2 separate regions of the Homo sapiens genome follow, and region 1 is linked to region 2. Evidence: fine-mapped expression QTL. A gene starts in region 2. The other region holds a variant in brackets. All regions are shown on one strand. Distances are from middle to middle.

Region 1 (8,336 bases), 43 kb before region 2:
CGTGTTGGCCAGACTGGTCTGGAACTCTTGACCTCAGGTGATCCCCCTGCCTGAGCCTCCCAAAGTGCTGAGATTACAGGCATGAGCCACCGTGCTGGCCGAACTCCTGCATTATTTAGACTCAACATACATTGTCCAGTTGCTATAAAACTTTTTCCATATGTCATTCTCTCGATTTCTGTGCTTACCTTTGTCAACCTAAAGGAGGAAATTGAGGCAAAATTAATATAGAGTCCATTTGGGCCAAGGCTAAGGACTGCAACCGAGGAAACACTGAGAAGTTCTCCTGAGAATAAAGGAGAGGTTTTTAAGGAAAAAAGGATCAATCAGGAGAGAGGGCAATTGCAAAAGTTGTTTTTTCAGGAATTTTTGCAGGGTTACAGGGATAACATTGATTAGTAATTGACTATATGTTGTTGAACTATAGTGTGTGAATAATGTTGTCTAGCATATGGCATATGTTAGGTAAATTTATGGGTACTTGGTGGAGACATTCAGTCTAGAGTCTATATAGCAGGAGGCTTCAAAATAAATACTTAGCTCAAGGTGGTAGTTGCTGCCAGACTCTGGCTGAGAGATGGATGAAGGAAGTACGCTGACACAGGTGTTTTACCTGACAGCGTGGCTAGGGGACTGCCGCTTAGCACCACCAGCAAGAGTGCAGCAGCAGCAGCTCCCATAAGCCAGAGACACTCGCATTTATTTAGTACAGATTTAACGACAAAGGCTTGGAGCAAACACAATTTGGGGTGATTAACATTGTCGACCCCCCCAAGTAGAGAGCAGTCCTGCACACGAATGAGCAAAGGTTGGTTTCTGGAGACATAAGTAAACAGATTTATCTAGATAAGTTCCTTTACATTCCCCTGTTATCTGCCTTTTGTTCTCAGCCCCCGGACAAGAGAATTTGGCTGCCTTCAGCCATAATCCTCTCCTGAAGCTTTTGCAAAACCTCCCTGCCTTCTAAGAAGGTTTGTGTCTTTCCCTATAATTTTTCCTACCACCCTGACTGATTTCCTACAGGTAGGGGGTGGAGTGAGCCATGACTGCTGTCTCATTTTAATGCCTCTCTGGGCCTGATCACTTAAAAGGGCTCATATTCCTCAGATAAAAAGTTTATTTTCTTTCTCACCTTGCCATGGTCCAGTAACAGTTTACAGACCTGCCCTGGATGGCAGGTTGCACTTTGAACAGTGATGATCTAATTCACTCATTCCTTCTCCGTTTAGGGAAGTTCACTCATTCACAGAATAAAACATTCATTACATATCTGTTATAAGCCAGACATATAGATGATTTGGGCTTATTCTGTTCTCAAGTGATTGCTGTGACACCATGACCATGTGTTATGATTATATAATTGAATTGGAATAGTCTAGTCATCAATAGAATGTCATGTTCACCATGATAGCACTGAAAAGAAAAATTGCCCCAGGCCTGGTCTGGGACAGACCCTTTTTTGGATGTGATGTAATTCACAACTTCCTTCTGGGGAGAAACTCAGTGCTCCTGATAAAATGCCCAAGCTGTTTTCTGATGGACTTTGATGGGATTAAGGCTTGTTCTGGGAAACAAGTCACACCTACCCTGCTCCCTGACCCCCTGCAGACTTTCAGACAACAGCCCAGTTGACCTTTAACCATATATATATATATATATATATATATATATATATTTTTTTTTTTTTTTTTTTTTTTAAGATGGAGTCTTGCTCTGTCACCCAGGCTGGAGTGCAGTGGGGCAATCTCGGCTCACTGCAACCTCCACCTCCCGGGTTCAAGTGATTCTTCTGCCTCAGCCTCCCAAGTAGCTGGGACTACAGGCGTGTGCCACCACGCCTGGTAATTTTTGTATTTTTAGTAGAAACAGGGGTTTCACCGTGTTGGCCAGGCTGGGTTCAAACTCCTGACCTCAGGCAATCAGCCCCCCTCAGCCTCCCAAAGTGCTGGGATTACAGGCGTCAGCCACCATGTCTGGCCTAACCAGCCATTCTTTTATTCTGTGTCTAGTCTAACAATGACTGTCTGGCCATTCTCTTTTCCTATAAAATGCCCTATCAAGTGTGAATCTTGGAAATAGACTCCTAGAGGCCATTTCACTTGAAGAAAGGCTGCAATACAGTTACAACACGTGGTCATAACTAAAGAGAGGGAAGGAGAGAATTCTGATGGGTTGATGGAGTTGGTGGGACTCAGTGACCCTGAGAAAGCTTTATAGTATTTCTGAGTCTCAGTTTTGTCATCTGTGAAATGGAGACAATAATACCTCAGGAGGTGGCTGTGAGAGTGAATATGGAATGGAAAGGGCGTGGTATCTGCCCAGCATGTATTAGTGCACCCTACATGCACATGATGATGATTATGATGGTGATGACTATGGACCCCTGATCTCTGAAAGAATTAAGAATATGCCATCCAAAACATGCCATTCTGGCATATTGACTTTTAAGTTAAAGGTATATGGAAAACAGTGGGTGCAAGGTCACTCCGACCTCTGTGCTGTTTCTTAAAAGCAGGAGATGGGCCGGGCATGGTGGCTCACACCTGTAATCCCAGCACTTTGGGAGGCCAAGGCGGGTGGATCATCTCAGGTCGGGAGTTCCAGACCAGCCTGACCAACATGGTGAAACCTCATCTCTACTAAAAATACAAAATTAGCCAGTCGTGGTGGTGCACGCGTGTAACCCCAGCTACTTGGGAGGCTGAGGCAGAAGAATTGCTTGAACCCAGGAAGTGGAGGTTGCAGTGAGCTGTGATCGCGCCATTGCACTCTAGCCTGGGCAACAAGAGCGAAACTCCGTCTCAAAAAAAAAAAAAAAAAAAGCAGATGAAATTCGAGTGTGAAAGACACAACATCCTTATCTTTGAGGTTGAGAAGTAGAGACCAGGAGTATTCTGCACAGACCTTGTTCAAATAACTCTTATCTTTTAAGCCTCTCTACATAATTTAGTTGCTTCTTCACAACTTACTACTCTTGGTCCAATCCAGTATATATTAATAAGTAACTGACTCTAGCTGCTTCTTTGGGCGTCTTCATTTCCTTAGCAGGGCTCCCGTGCCATGTAAAACTTATATGAAATAAAGTTGTATGCTTTTCTCCTGTTAATCGATCTTACATCAATTTAGCCTTTGTGCCCAGCTGAGACCCTAAGAGCATGGAAGTGGATGGAGTTTTGCTGTCCTTACATCTCCTCAAGTAGAGTCCTGGAGTTCCAGGGTATTACCGTAACCACCCAATGGGTTCACCTTGCTGGGTGCCTAGACAGAGTTGATTTCTCAGGACAGGGGAATTGCAATAGAGAAAGAGTAATTCAGGCCGGGTGTGGTGGCTCATGCCTATAATCCCAGCACTTTGGGAGGCCGAGGAAGGTGGATCACGAGGTCAGGAATTCAAGACCAGCCTGGCCAAGGTGGTGAAACCCCGTCTCTACTGAAAATACAAAAAAGGTAGCTGGGTGTGGTGGCGGGCACCTGTAATCCCAGCTACTTGGGAGGCTGAGGCAGATAATTGCTTGAACCCAAGAGGCAGAGGTTGCAGTGATCCGAGACTGAATCGCTGCACTCCAGCCTGGGTGACAGAGTGAGACTCCGTCTCAAAAATAAAAAAAAAAAAAGAGAGAGAGAGTAATTCATGTAGAGCCGGCTGTGCGGGAGACTGGAGTCTTATTGTTACTCAAATCAATCTCCCTGAGCATTTGGGGATCAGAGTTCTTAAGGATAATTTGGTGGTATGGGCTCGGAGAGTGGAGAGTGCTCACTGGTCGGGTTGAAGATGAAATCATAGGGGGTCGAATTGAGGTGTTCTTGCTGACTTCTGCTCCTGGGTGGGATTGCAGAACTGATTGAGCCGGATTATCAGTCTAGGTGGTGTCATCTGCTGCATTGGAATGCAGAGTCTGCAAAATATCTCAAGCACTGATGTTAGGTTTCGCAACAATGATGTCATTCCCAGGAGCAATTTGGAGAGGTTCAGACTCTTGCAGCCAAAGGCTGCATGGCTGCTAAACTGTAATTTCTAATCTTGTAGATAATTTGTTAATCCTACAAAGGCAAACTGGTCCCCAGGCAAAAAGGGGTTTTTCGGGAAAAGGCTATTATCAATTTTGTTTCAGAGTGTAAACTATAAACTAAATTCCTTCCCAAGGCTAGTTCAGCCTATACCCACAAATGAATAAAGACAGTTGAGAGGTTTGAAGGAAGATGGGGTCAGTTAGGTCTGACCTCTTTCACTGTCATAATTGCCTTAGTTAAGATTTTTGCAAAGCCGGTTGCATTATCTGCTCCGGGTCAAGCTCTGGGCTGTTGCTTCTCCCTCAGGCCTGAGATGGGAGGAGCAGATGCCCCATGGGCCTGGGAAAGGGGTCAAGCAGGTGCCTAGTGCCTGAGGGCGAGCAGGGGCTGCCTGAAGCGAGAAAGTCAGAGGGCTTGCCTTTGCGGCAACACTGCCAGTTCCCACAGGGTCGAAGCTCCTCCTGAGTAGTGGGCAGGGAAGAAGCCAGCCTGGGCCTGGGCTCCTTGGGGAGACAGGACTAACGCTGGAGCCTGGGCCACTGCAGGCCTGTGATCTGGAACCCAGC[A/C]AAGCCTCATCACCCTGCAGCTGTGGGAGCAGGCAGAGCCCTCCTGTGGTTTTAACTCTGTGGCTGTCACTCAGGGACCATTTATCGGCTGTTCTTTTTCACAACATTTCTGTTAGCTTGAGGCTTGGGCCGAGAGAAAAGAGGCTGCTGAAAACCGTCTGCGTCTGTTTTCTTCATGCTATTGGTAGGAGAAACACACTTGTCACATACTGAGTCATTTTTCTGCTTCAACCTCAATCTACTTTCTCTGAAAAAGTGAATCCATGTGGAAGAACTTATGGGAGAGGGATGAGGGAGAGAGGGAGGAGCAGAGGGAAGGGAGAGGGAGGAGGGAGATGGCAGCCTGTCCAGTGTTTCTAGCCTGCATCATATTGTGGAAACTTGACAAGTCTAATTCTCTGCCATGGCGAGGGTGAAGGGAAGAGGCGGAGGCAGAAGAGAAAGAGCAGAGCCTTAGGCAGGTGGTAGGTACAGCGCTGCCAGCCTGCAGGATCCTTTGTGAGAGTCAGAAAATGGTGCCTGCTCTGCCTGCACACCGCCCTATGCCAGCCCACAGAGTTTTGGCAAGCCCAGCACAGCTAGATTTCAGTCTCCACTGTCCCCTCTGCCTTGTTCAGTGAACGGCCTGTGCAACTGTGATCAGCAGCCCTGACTGGAGGAAGACTCATTCCAAATGCTGTGGCAGATGAAGGCTCACAAGGAACTGAAATAAGAAGTGGTAAAACTGCCCTCGGTTATGGCTACAGTATTCGATGAGTGTAAAGGTACAGTCCATTTCCAGAAAGCCTGACTATGAGGCCATCACTCTTACTCATTGAGTACAGCTCTTTACTTTCTCCATCGAGGCATCCACCAAACTCTACAAAATCTAGTTAATTGCTCCCTTCCCTCTTCCACCAAACTTGGACTCTCTCCTTGTTTCTATAAACCAAAAGGTATCTGAGACAGGTCTCAATCAATTTAGAAAGTTTATTTTTTCAAAGTTAAGAATCTGCTTGTGACACAGCCTTGGAAGGTCCTGACAACATGTACCCAAGGTAGTCAGACACATCTTGCTTTTATGCATTTTAGGGAGACACGAGACATCAATACATGTAAGATGTACATTGGTTTAGTCTGGGAAGGTGGGACAACGTGAGGCGGAGACTTCCACGTCATAAGTAGTCAAAAGACAAAAGGCTGCAGTGGACTCTTCGGAGTCCTTGATCAACCTTCCACTGAATACAAAATTTAGTCTGGCTCAGTGAATCTGCAATTTTACATAAATAATAGGGCAGAGGAAGCAATTGGATACGGATTTGTCCCATGTGAGCCTCTAAGGGATGACTTTGAGTTCTGTTCTGTCTGTCCTTTGTCCACAAGGAATTTCCTTGTAGGTAAATTGTGAGGGAAGTATGGAGCTTTTTATCTTTGTAGCCATCTTATTTAGGAATAAAATGGGAGGCAGGTTTGCGTGACATAGTTCCCAGCCTGTCTTTTCCCTTGGCTTTGTGATTTTGGGGTCTCGAGATTTATTTTCCTTTCACATTTCCATCCCTGTATTGCTTTTTTTTTACTTCCCAATGTTACAGGAAAGGGGTACTGATCCAGACCCCAAGAGAGGGGTCTTGGATCTCGCACAAGAAAGAATTGAGGGTGAGCCCGTACAGTAGAGTGAAAGCAAGTTTATTAGGAAAGTAAAGGAATAAAAGAATGGCTACTCCATAGACAGAGAACCCCCAAGGGCTGCTGGTTGTCCATTTTTCTGGTTATTTCTTGATGATATGCTAAACAAGGGGTGGATTAATTATGTCTCCCCTTTTTAGACCATATAGAGTAACTTCCTGACGTTGCCATGGCATTTGTAAACTGTCATGGCGGGAGTGTAGCAGTGATGATGATCAGAGGTCACTCTTGTGGCCATCTTGGTTTTGGTGGGTTTTGGCTGGCTTCTTTACTGCAAACTGTTTTATCAGCAAGGTCTTTATGACCTGTATCTTGTGCTGACCTCCTATCTCATCCTGTGACTTAGAATGCCTTAACCGTCTGGGAATGCAGCCCAGTAGGTCTCAGCCTCATTTTACCCAGCTCCTATTCATGATGATGTTGCTCTGGTTCAAATGCCTCTGACACCAGGAAGAGGCTTCCTATATTTCAGAATAAAATTTCTACACCTAAACTTTCTGCTGCAAATATTCACTACCTCTTCTAGGAAAGCTCTGGTGCCTGATTCTGCTGAAAGCATCTTTTTTCTCCCCGCTACTCGCCGCTCCCCCCACCCCTACTCCTTATCAAATGACCTCTCTTTCAGAAAGAAGAAAAGAAGATATAAAGGTAAGGGAACATGAGAGTAGAGAAATGCTGCCTAGCCACATACAATTTTTTGCTTTAATTCATTGTGTTCTTGGAGAGACTATCAAAAGCTTTCATCAGAGTCTCAAGAGTCCATGACCCCGGAATTTTAAGAGCTGCTGCTACAAAAGGATTCATGAAATCCTCTAAGAAAAAGGCACAGAAAGTTCAGGGAGGGTTTATTAAATTAATTTTACCCCACTGTCTGATTTTTGGCAGGTTATCTAATTTTTTTTTTTAACCATGAGCATGAACAGTGTTGCTTATTTTCCTGACTACCTTGGATGGCCCCCAGAATCATATTATTCTAATTGCCAACTAGAGGCCATCCCATTCTTCAGCCCACCACCCTCCAAGCTACCCTCCATTGTGTACCATGAACTGTAATCCAAGCAGCTCTCTTGTTGGGGTTAAAGGCCTCTAGTCCCACCTATATGCCTTTCTCTTGCTCTGTTCCCCAGCCAGCCCTTCACCCCAGCCAGGCTGGCTAATGTACTACCCATGTAAACCAAAAATAAAAGTTTAAGTCACTCAACGGACTGAATGGACCCCCCTTCTTGGCCAAAGGAATTCTAAAGTAAACCTGAAAAATTAGTTCAGGCCATCGTGGGAAAGGGGGTTGGACATGCCACATTATACCCTCCTTTCTTTGGAATTCAGGCACAACTGACCAGCATTAATATTAAAATAGGAACCTGGGCAACAGAAGGATACCTTTTCTCTAAAAAAATCAAAACAAAGACCAGGCCCAGTGGCTCACACCTGTAATCCCAGCACTTTGGGAGGCCGAGATGGGTGGATCACCTGAAGTCAGGAGTTTGAGACCAGCCTGGCCAACATGGTGAAATCCTGTCTCTACTAAAAATACAAAAAATTAGCCGGGCGTGGTGGTGTGCACCTGTAATCCCAGCTACTCGGGAGGCTGAGGCAGGAGAATCACTTGAACCTAGGAGTTGGAGGTTGCAGTAAGCTAAGATCATGTCACTGCACTCCAGCCTGGGCAACAGAGTGAAACTCAGAAAAAAAAAAAAAAAAAGAGACAAAAACCAAACAACCAAACAAACAAAAACCATATAACAACAACAACAAAATTAAAATGGAGATCTTAAGACTGACAAAACAGGCTTTTGTAGCAATAAGATACCAAATTCCAACCTAACTCTAGTATCGTGCCACATGTCAGATAGCAGGCCCTGAAGGAAATTATTTTATCCTCAAATATATTTATCTGATGTATTTAGATATGGCCCCACAAAGCTGTCTCTTATGGGAGAAATGTATGTCTGGTCTTGAACTCATGGGCTCAAGCGATCCTCCCACCTCAGCCTCCCAAAGTGCTGGGATTACAGGCGTGAGCCACTGCACCTGGCTGAAATTTACATTCTGTAGAGAATCCTCTTCCCTTTCCAGGTTTTTTTTTTTTGGATC
Region 2 (8,336 bases):
GAGGATCGCTTGAACCCGGAAGGTGGAGGTTGCAGTGAGCTGAGATTGCACCACTGCACTCCATCCTGGGCAACAGAGCAAGACTTTGTATCAAAATAAATAAATAAATAAATAAATAAATAAATAAATAAATGGAAGGAGAGAAGGAAGGAGGATTGGGTTGGAGGAGCCTGAGACTGCAGTCAGTTTACAAGAAAGGTTTGGCCAGGCTGGTAAAGAATCCTGGAGCCAAAGTGGACTATTGGAATTGTCCCTCTTCTGTGCTCAGTCATTGGTTGGAGCAGCTGGCAGGAAGTGCAGCCTCCCTGTAGCCATGGTGTTGGATCCAGAAAGGCAGCTTCGGGGTGACCATCAATCACGCTCCCCACAGCAGGAGATCCAGCGGCATTAGCATGGCTGCCATGCATATCATTTCCATCTCACACATGAAACATGTTGAAAAATTGAACTTGAGAGTTTCTTCCAGTTCATTTTCCTGGTTAAGTAACTACTTGGACATTGTGACCCATTCAAAACCAATTTGTGATTTTCTTGTGTTTCAGTGCCCGACTAACAAGCCAAACAAATTAAGTACTTTGAAGGCTTTGTCTTGGTAACAGCTCTTTACTAAGCCTATTTGCCTTTTAACTCTAATTTTGGATTCCCAAAATTTTGCATTTTAGGCAGAGTTAAGCACAATGGACATTTTCATGCAAATCGAATCAATATAGAGCCCCAAATGGCAGCTACTGGGCCATATCCAGTCCACAGATCTGTTGGGCCCACACAGAATCTAAAAAAAAAATTGAACCAACATTCTAAAATGGAAAGATTTTATATTTTTATTTTATATTTTATTTTATTTTATTTTTTTTGAGAAGGAGTCTCGCTCTGTTGCCCAGGCTGGAGTGCAGTGGTGCCATCTCAGCTCATTGCAACCTCTGCCTCCCAGGTTCAAGCAATCCTCCTGCCTCAGCCTCCCGAGTAGTTGGGACTACTGGTGTAAGCCAATGCACCTGGCTAATTTTTTGTATTTTTTTTTTTTTTTTTTTTAGTGGAGATGGGATTTCTCCGTGTTGGCCAAACTGGTCTCGAACTCCTGACCTCAGGTGATCCACCTGCCTTGGCCTCCCAAAGTGCTGGGATTACAGCATGAGCCACCGTGCCTGGCCAAGATTTCATTATTTTTTAAAATGTTGATTCCTGGCTTCTTTTGAAAACAGCAGAGTTGAACATGGAGCCTGAATTTCTGCATGACCACATCATCTAAGGTGAAAGGGGCTGCTGCTTAAAATGGGGCTCTCCCTGTTTGCTCTGTGCTCCACTGCCCACAAAAGATACACATATGTCCTTACACCTGGCAAGAATCACTGGTTTATATTCCTGTCTAGTCCTTTGTGCAGAGTGCTAGCTGTTCCCCAATATTGCATTCTGTTCTTCCATAGTAATGTTCCAGATGGACTCATGATGGTCCCCCTAGGATTACAATTCCAGCTTCCCTTGCAGCTAGGTGTGGGCCAGTTACTAAGTTCTGGCCAAGGAGATGATTGTGGAATTGATGCTTGGAATTTCCAGACTGCCTTTAATGGAAAGCAGGATGTCTTCTCTTGCTCTAGTTCTTCTTCCTGCCTGTTGGAGTGTGGATGGGATAGTGGCAGCTGGGGCAGCCATGTGCTATCACAAGATGGAAGCTGTGTATGGAGCATACTAGAGCAAAAAGACAGGAAGAAACTACATCCCCAACATCATGGAATCACATGGCAGCTCTGGAAGGCTTATGCTCACACTCTTACCTAAGAAAAACAAAGTTCTGTTTTTATCTCTCATTTTTACAGCAGCCTCAGTTATATCTTAAAGAAAACATCTTGTTTGTAAGGGGGCCTGTGGCCCCTGGCTTAGACCAAGAAACTCTGGAACTGTGCAGGCAGCATCAAACCAAATTTCACCGAGAACCAAGATGAGCCATAATCCTTTCTATGGTAAAAGCAATATTGGAAAACCCTTTCTATGTCTCAGAGGCTCTGTTTGCAGGTGGCACATTGCATGTAGCTGTGAACTGGTTTATACAAATGGCTCCTTAGGGGCCGCTATTTCCCACCGCTGCATATCTCAGGTTCACAGACTACTGCACCACATTCTCACCTCTTTTTCTTCTCCACTTTGTCTTTAAAGGCCACACTTGAGCAGGCAGCCCTCCCACCTTTTCTCGGCAGTGCCATCTGAGTAGAAGCGAAGTAGAAACTTCTTGGTTGGTACTGTTCCGGTTTCCAAGGGACCAACGGAGGCTGGTGCTAAGTGCGAAACCATTGAGGATCTTGACAGTTTCGGTCTGAGCCCACCCTGTGGTATTATGTGAGGGCAAAGGGCCAGTTATGAAAATGATCTATGAAAAAATGACGCTATTACTTCCCCAGAGGCAGATGCCAAAAATGACATGTTATTGTGTTCCTTAGAATGATGAATGAAAGTATTGAATGAAATCTGAGTAATAATAATACCAAACTATTTAGTGTAGCCTGTGACAATGAGTCTTCCCAGCCAGGACTATTTTGGGAAATAGAAGCGGGAAAAAAAGAGTTGCTATTTACTGAGCACTTAAGGTGCTGCAAGTCTTATGCACATTTTCTCATTTAGTTATCTCAAAAATCCTACGATTTAGTATTATAGCAACTTTTTTTAAAAAGCAGAAGTGCTAAGAAAAGTTAAGGAACTCAACAAAGCTTGCATCGCTAGGAAGTAAAAAGCCAGAATTTTGATTTAAATCTAATGACCTATGTTTATTCCATATTATGCAGCCTCTTGGATGCTCTAATGCTGGCCTAATCAGGAGAAAGAGGCAAATGAGATCACGGTCAAAACTGCTGGGGAAGTCAGGTGCAGTGGCTCACGCCTGTAAACCCAGCACTTTGGGAGGCTGAGGAAGGAGAATCACTTGAGCCCAGGAGGTCAAGGCTGCAGTGAGCTATGATTGCACCACTGCACTCCAGCCTGGGTGACAGCGTGAAACCCTGTCTCAAACAAACAAGCAAAAACTACCAGGATTGAAAATATCTGAGTGAGGAAGATGGTTTGTAATGGAGGCAAGCTAGCAAGAAAAGAATGTGGGGGAGGGGTTCTATACCTGCATCAGATCATCTGAGGGCCCACAGTGCAGCTCCGTGGGCTCTGAGGGATTGTGTAAGAGGCAGCTGGCAGATATGCATGGGGTGGGCTGATCTGGCAAAAAGACGAGATAAATCTGAAAAATACATTTTACAGTGCTCTTTACACTGAAGAATCTTGCAGAGTAACTGGTAGATATGATAAGGGATAGAGAAGGAATTACTGCTTAATAGCTAGCCAGACACTGGCATTAAGGTTTCTGCATATTTAAATGGGTGTGCTTTTCCCATCCCTGACAGATTCTTTTGTTTTCCCCTACGTCCTTAGGTTCCTCTTTTATACAAATGGCCTCTATGTCCATTCACACTGTTCTGCAAGATCAAAGGAGAAAATAATTCCCAAAGCAATGTTCTGGGACACTGAGGGTCATCAAACATCAAGTGAAATTTGATCAACTTGCATTTTTATGTATTATCTCTTACCTTTTGCATCTTCAGAAAGGCAGTTTATCTTTATTTTCATTTAGTGGTAAAATATTTTCTAATAGCATCAGTGAAATCCTGTTGAAAGTCAATGGCCAGCTTTTTAGACATAAGACAAATGAGAGTTCTGTTGGGCACAACAGAACTGCTAACAGGTCTTTCACTATATTTCTTTCTCTCTCAGCCATTGATGGGTGTCTGACACCTCCAAACTCCCTCTATGCTGGGCTGATTAGAAGTGGAGGAGTTGTCTAAGATGCAACTGTTTGAACTTCAGCGGTGGAAGGTTGGGCAGCTGGGCCCCAGGTGTGTGCATTCAGACTGTAGCAGGAGTGATGCCCTCTCCCCGTGGTCCATCAAGCTCTATCTATAAGATGAGTCTCAGGAGACTGAGTACCAACCTCTAGACAGGAGCAGGGAGGGATATAAAATAGAAATGTTGACAAGGCAAAGAGAATGATGCCCCCAAGGCCACTGTGGTTCTACAGACTTATGTTTGTGCTCGAGTTAGAGCAGGATGAGGTTGGAAATGAAGCTTACAGAGTTACAAGGGACGGCGGTAGTTCCAGAAAGGACAGGGTCATCTGGTTTTTGGAAGGCATCTTGGAGATTTCATCGTACGTAAGCCATCCAGAGCTAGTATGTGGGCTGCATGATGTTGGGGACTTGCTTTCCTCCTGTCTTTTTGCTCTACTGTTCTCGATACAGAACTTCTCCCTGTGAGGTCCGATGGTAGTTAGGGAGCAATGGTGCTAATAGGAGGCTTTGTTAATGAGAACAGGGATGCCTGCTAGATTTGGGGTTAGAAAGGAAAACAAAGAAATGTGATGAGGTCCTAGTGTCGTTGGCAGCTGGCAAATTCATTACATCATCAAGCTCTCTGACTTAAGTCTCTTGCCTACCTTGCGCTGGTTAAAACGAAAATGTAGCCCTCAGCGCCGCAGAAAACAATTCTCCAGGGCTGTGACCATGGGGTGCCAGGGAGGAAGTGAAACTAATTGGGCAAAGACTCTTCCTGTCTGTCCATTCCTCTGTGTGGCCCTCTGGTAGAAGCAAGGATTTATGCATGTTGGGCTAGATATGAGTGAAAAAGGGGAAACATGGTCTGAAGGAGGACTTTGGGGTCAGGAATAGTCTAAAGTTTAGCAATTTTCTTTTGCTTTAGGAATCGCTCTTTGACCTCATTTTTTTTTTCTTTTTAAGTGAAGTTTCCAAGCAGAAAAGGCAGTATTTGCCAAGTGCTACAATTCACTCTAAGCTGATTGGGTTCTGAACACGAAGGCCCTTTTTACTCTCACAATCATTTAAAAACAGTAGTAGTAAGTGGGGTGTTTTCGCACTAATTTACAGGTTCCTCATTTGTTGCTATGATGACCCCCTGAGGCCGGAATTGTTATCCTCTTACAGATGGGGCAGTTGAAGCTCAGAGAGAAGTGGCTTGACCAAGGCCCAACGGCAGGTGAGCAGCAGAGTCTAGGGTTTTATCTTTCTATCACACCTGTCACCGTGGTGCCCGGGGATGAGCAGTCACTTCAGATAAACGTTGAGGTTTCTGTTACCAGCCGTCCTCCGGGCCCAGTGTGATTAGTCTACTTTGCTCAGCTTCCTGTAGGTGTGTTGTGATACTCTGTAGATACTTTATTTCCTCTTCTCCCCTAGTTCGTCCAGAAATACAAACTGTTGAATTTCTTTATCATCATTTTAGAAGTGATAAACATTCCCAAAAGGTATGTTATTTCTGCCATGGAGTTGGCAGTCTTTATTCATGCAGAATGCATTCTGGAGTGTTTTGTTTTAGTGAAAAGAAGACATTCTTAGAAATTGAAGACAAAGAGGAGAGGAAGTGAGCCCGCAGGGGGCATGTTCCCATGGGATTGGGAGTCAGGCATCTTTAGGTATCTCTGCTCCCTTCTCCTCGGGAGAAAGCAAGGACCACTGCCTTCTAAGTCAAGCAGACCTTGGTTCAAATCCCAGCTCTGGCGAAAATTCTTGAGGAAGATATTTAACCTCTCTGAGCCTCAGTTTCCTCATCTAGAAAATGGGGAGAATAATATCACTTTCTTCATTGGGTCATTGGGGGGAATTTAATGAAGTAATGCAACATTTTTCCAAGTGTGATATACATCCTATAGGTGATAGATGATTTTCTGGTGATATAGATATTCTAATGTAATAATTATAACATACACACACCAGCACACCAAAATCATCATTTCACAGGTCTGATTGCTTAGGGTGTGGCTAGGTAAGAAGCATATATAACCCACATTAAAGACTATTTTAATACAATGTTAAATGTGTGATAGAGATGGCATCAGTGGACTAGAGAGGGGGAACGACCATCACCAGGAATCCCTGAAGGAATGTGTATGAAAGTGGGCCCTGCCCACTTTGGTTGAAGTCTTCCACCCTGGTTGACTTTGGACAAAGGAAACCAGGCAGATCCAGGTTGGATGGGAAGGCTGGCTCTCCCTGAGACCTGAAGCCAGGGGCCCTGTGAAGAGTCCCTGTTAATTTCATCTTGCGCTGCTGCCCTCTGGTGTTCACGCGCTGTTCCCAGTGTCTTGAGAGCAAGTCAAAGCCGAGCCAGTGCGATTTAGAGCGTGAGCGCGACCCTGTCTGGCCCTTCTCCCACTTCTTTGTTTCCCTGCTTTCAGGGACTTTCCGAGTCCCATCAATCCCACCACCTTGGCCTATCCTCCCCCAAGTGTCACTTCCTCCTGCAGCCTAGTCGCAACTCCCCTTCCCCCAAACTCCTTACTAATCAGCAGAGGATGCTCTGGTTCTCAGGTGTGAACAACAAATGAGCTTAGTTTACTGAGGGGACATTTGTTTTAAAAGAGAAACCAGTTTAACAAAACAAAAACTCAAGTCAGCAGGAAGTGAAGTGGCTATATTTTTGAAATGAGGGTCTTTCCTTGTCTCCCAAGCTTCCTCTACAGAATGGAACCTGCTCTTTAAGCAGGCAGCCACATCCCGGGAATGAAATCCTTCAAAGGGAATGAATTGCCTTTCTTCCCAGCCAATTCTACAAGAAACTTTCAAATAGTTTCACTTTCTGTGTTCGAACATAATACTTATAACTGAGAACCCCAAATATAAGTGGTTTTTGTTAAATCACTGGATATAATAAAGGCTGGGTGTGATGGCTCATGCCTGCAATCCCAGCACATTGGGAGGCCGAGGTGGGTGGATCACTTGAGGCCAGGAGTTCGAGACCAGCCTAGTCAACATGGTGAAAGCCCATCTCTACCAAAAATACAAAAATTAGCCAGGCCTGGTGGCAGGTACCCATAGTCCCAGCTACTCGGGAGGCTGAGGCAAGCGAATTGCTTAGGTGGAGGTTGTAGTGAGCTGAGATCGTGCCACTGCACTCCAGCCTGGGTGACAGAGCGATACTGCATCTCAAAATAATAATAATAATAATAATAATTTATTTACCTCTCATGTAAACAGAGACAACCCAAGACTGTTATGGCGGCTCCCTGATCACCAGGTTTCTTCCATCTTGTTCCATTCTCTTCAACACATGGCTTCTACCTCGTGGCCCAAAATGGCTGCTCCAGCTCCAAGCTTGGTTCAGCGTTTCAGTCACTGGTCAGGAGGAAAGGAACAGAGAAGGGTACATTCTAGTTCTTTAAAGTGCTCACTGGCCAGGTGCGGTGGCACATGCCTGTAATCTCAGCACTTTCGGAGGCCAAAGTGAGAGGATCACCAGAGGTCAGGAGTTCGAGACCAGCCTGGACAACACAGTGAAACCCCATCTGTACTAAAAATACAAAAATTAGCCAGGCATGGTAACACATACCTGCAGTCCCAGCTACTCAGGAGGCTGAGGCAGGAGAATCACTTGAACCTGGAAGACGGAGGTTGCAGTGAGCTGAGATGGCACCACTGCACCCCAGTCCCCAGCAACAAAGCGAGACTCTGTCTCAAAAAGAAAAAAAAAGAAAAAAGAAAAGAAAGAGAAGTGCTCACCACTCTCCCTTACATCCTGCTGACCAGTCCTCAGACATGAGTTCACTGTCAGGTATACTGGGGAATGAGGCAGAGCAACCATGGGCCTTGGTAACATTTGACATTTTATTACTGAAGAATTAGAGAATGGATTTTGGAGACAATCAGCAATCTCCTCTATAAGCCGATGGCTGGCGTTGTGAAAGATGTTCAGACCCAAGAAGGATCAGATCCCAGAACTAAAAAGAAGCTCTAGCATTTCCCTCCTGTCATCGAGGAAATGCTGCTGGAACAACGGCTAATACTCTAAGCCTCGGCCGGGACGCGGAGATTGTAGTCTGGCTCTGCCTCTCGCCACTATCATGGCCTTGAGAGAGTTACCTAACATTCCAGAGCTCAGTTTCTCTCAGATGAGGTTACTTCCTGCTCTACAATGATGACTATATATACTTGTCATGGCATCAGGCAGTTAAATAGACAATGAATGTATTTTTTCTTCCTTTCAATCGTGAACATTTAATGTTGTGAATAATTAAGAATACACATAACTGGCTGGGCGAGGTGGCTCATGCCTGTAATCCCAGCACTTTGGGAGGCCGGGCGGGGGTGGATTACAAGGTCAGGAGATAGAGACCATCCTGGCTAACACGGTGAAACCCCATCTCTACTAAAAATACAAAAAAATTAGGAGGGTGTGGTGGCGGGCACCTGTAGTCCCAGCTACTCGGGAGGCTGAGGCAGGAGAATTGCTTAAATCTGGAGGTTGCAGTGAGCTGAGATTGCACCACTTCACTCCAGCCTGGGCAACAAGAGTGA

What was found. PIP is the estimated chance that this variant, and not a neighbour inherited with it, causes the effect.
Region 1: its variant is fine-mapped to the expression of LINC02265 in whole blood (TOPMed, PIP above 0.99).

Annotation. Positions count from the first base shown.
Region 1 is chr4:40,260,789-40,269,124 of GRCh38, forward strand. No RefSeq gene overlaps it. Among named protein-coding and RNA genes, the nearest start is that of LINC02265, 42 kb to the right of the region's middle. The variant A/C (reference allele first, on the strand shown) is at 4,578.
Region 2 is chr4:40,303,307-40,311,642 of GRCh38, forward strand. LINC02265 (long intergenic non-protein coding RNA 2265) reads left to right here and starts at 3,879. Exons shown (of 4, transcript NR_121641.1): 1 at 3,879-4,180; 2 at 4,971-5,022. RefSeq lists enhancers at 2,049-2,108, 2,209-2,308, 2,419-2,478, 4,299-4,348, 4,919-5,048 and 3 more and a silencer at 5,986-6,280.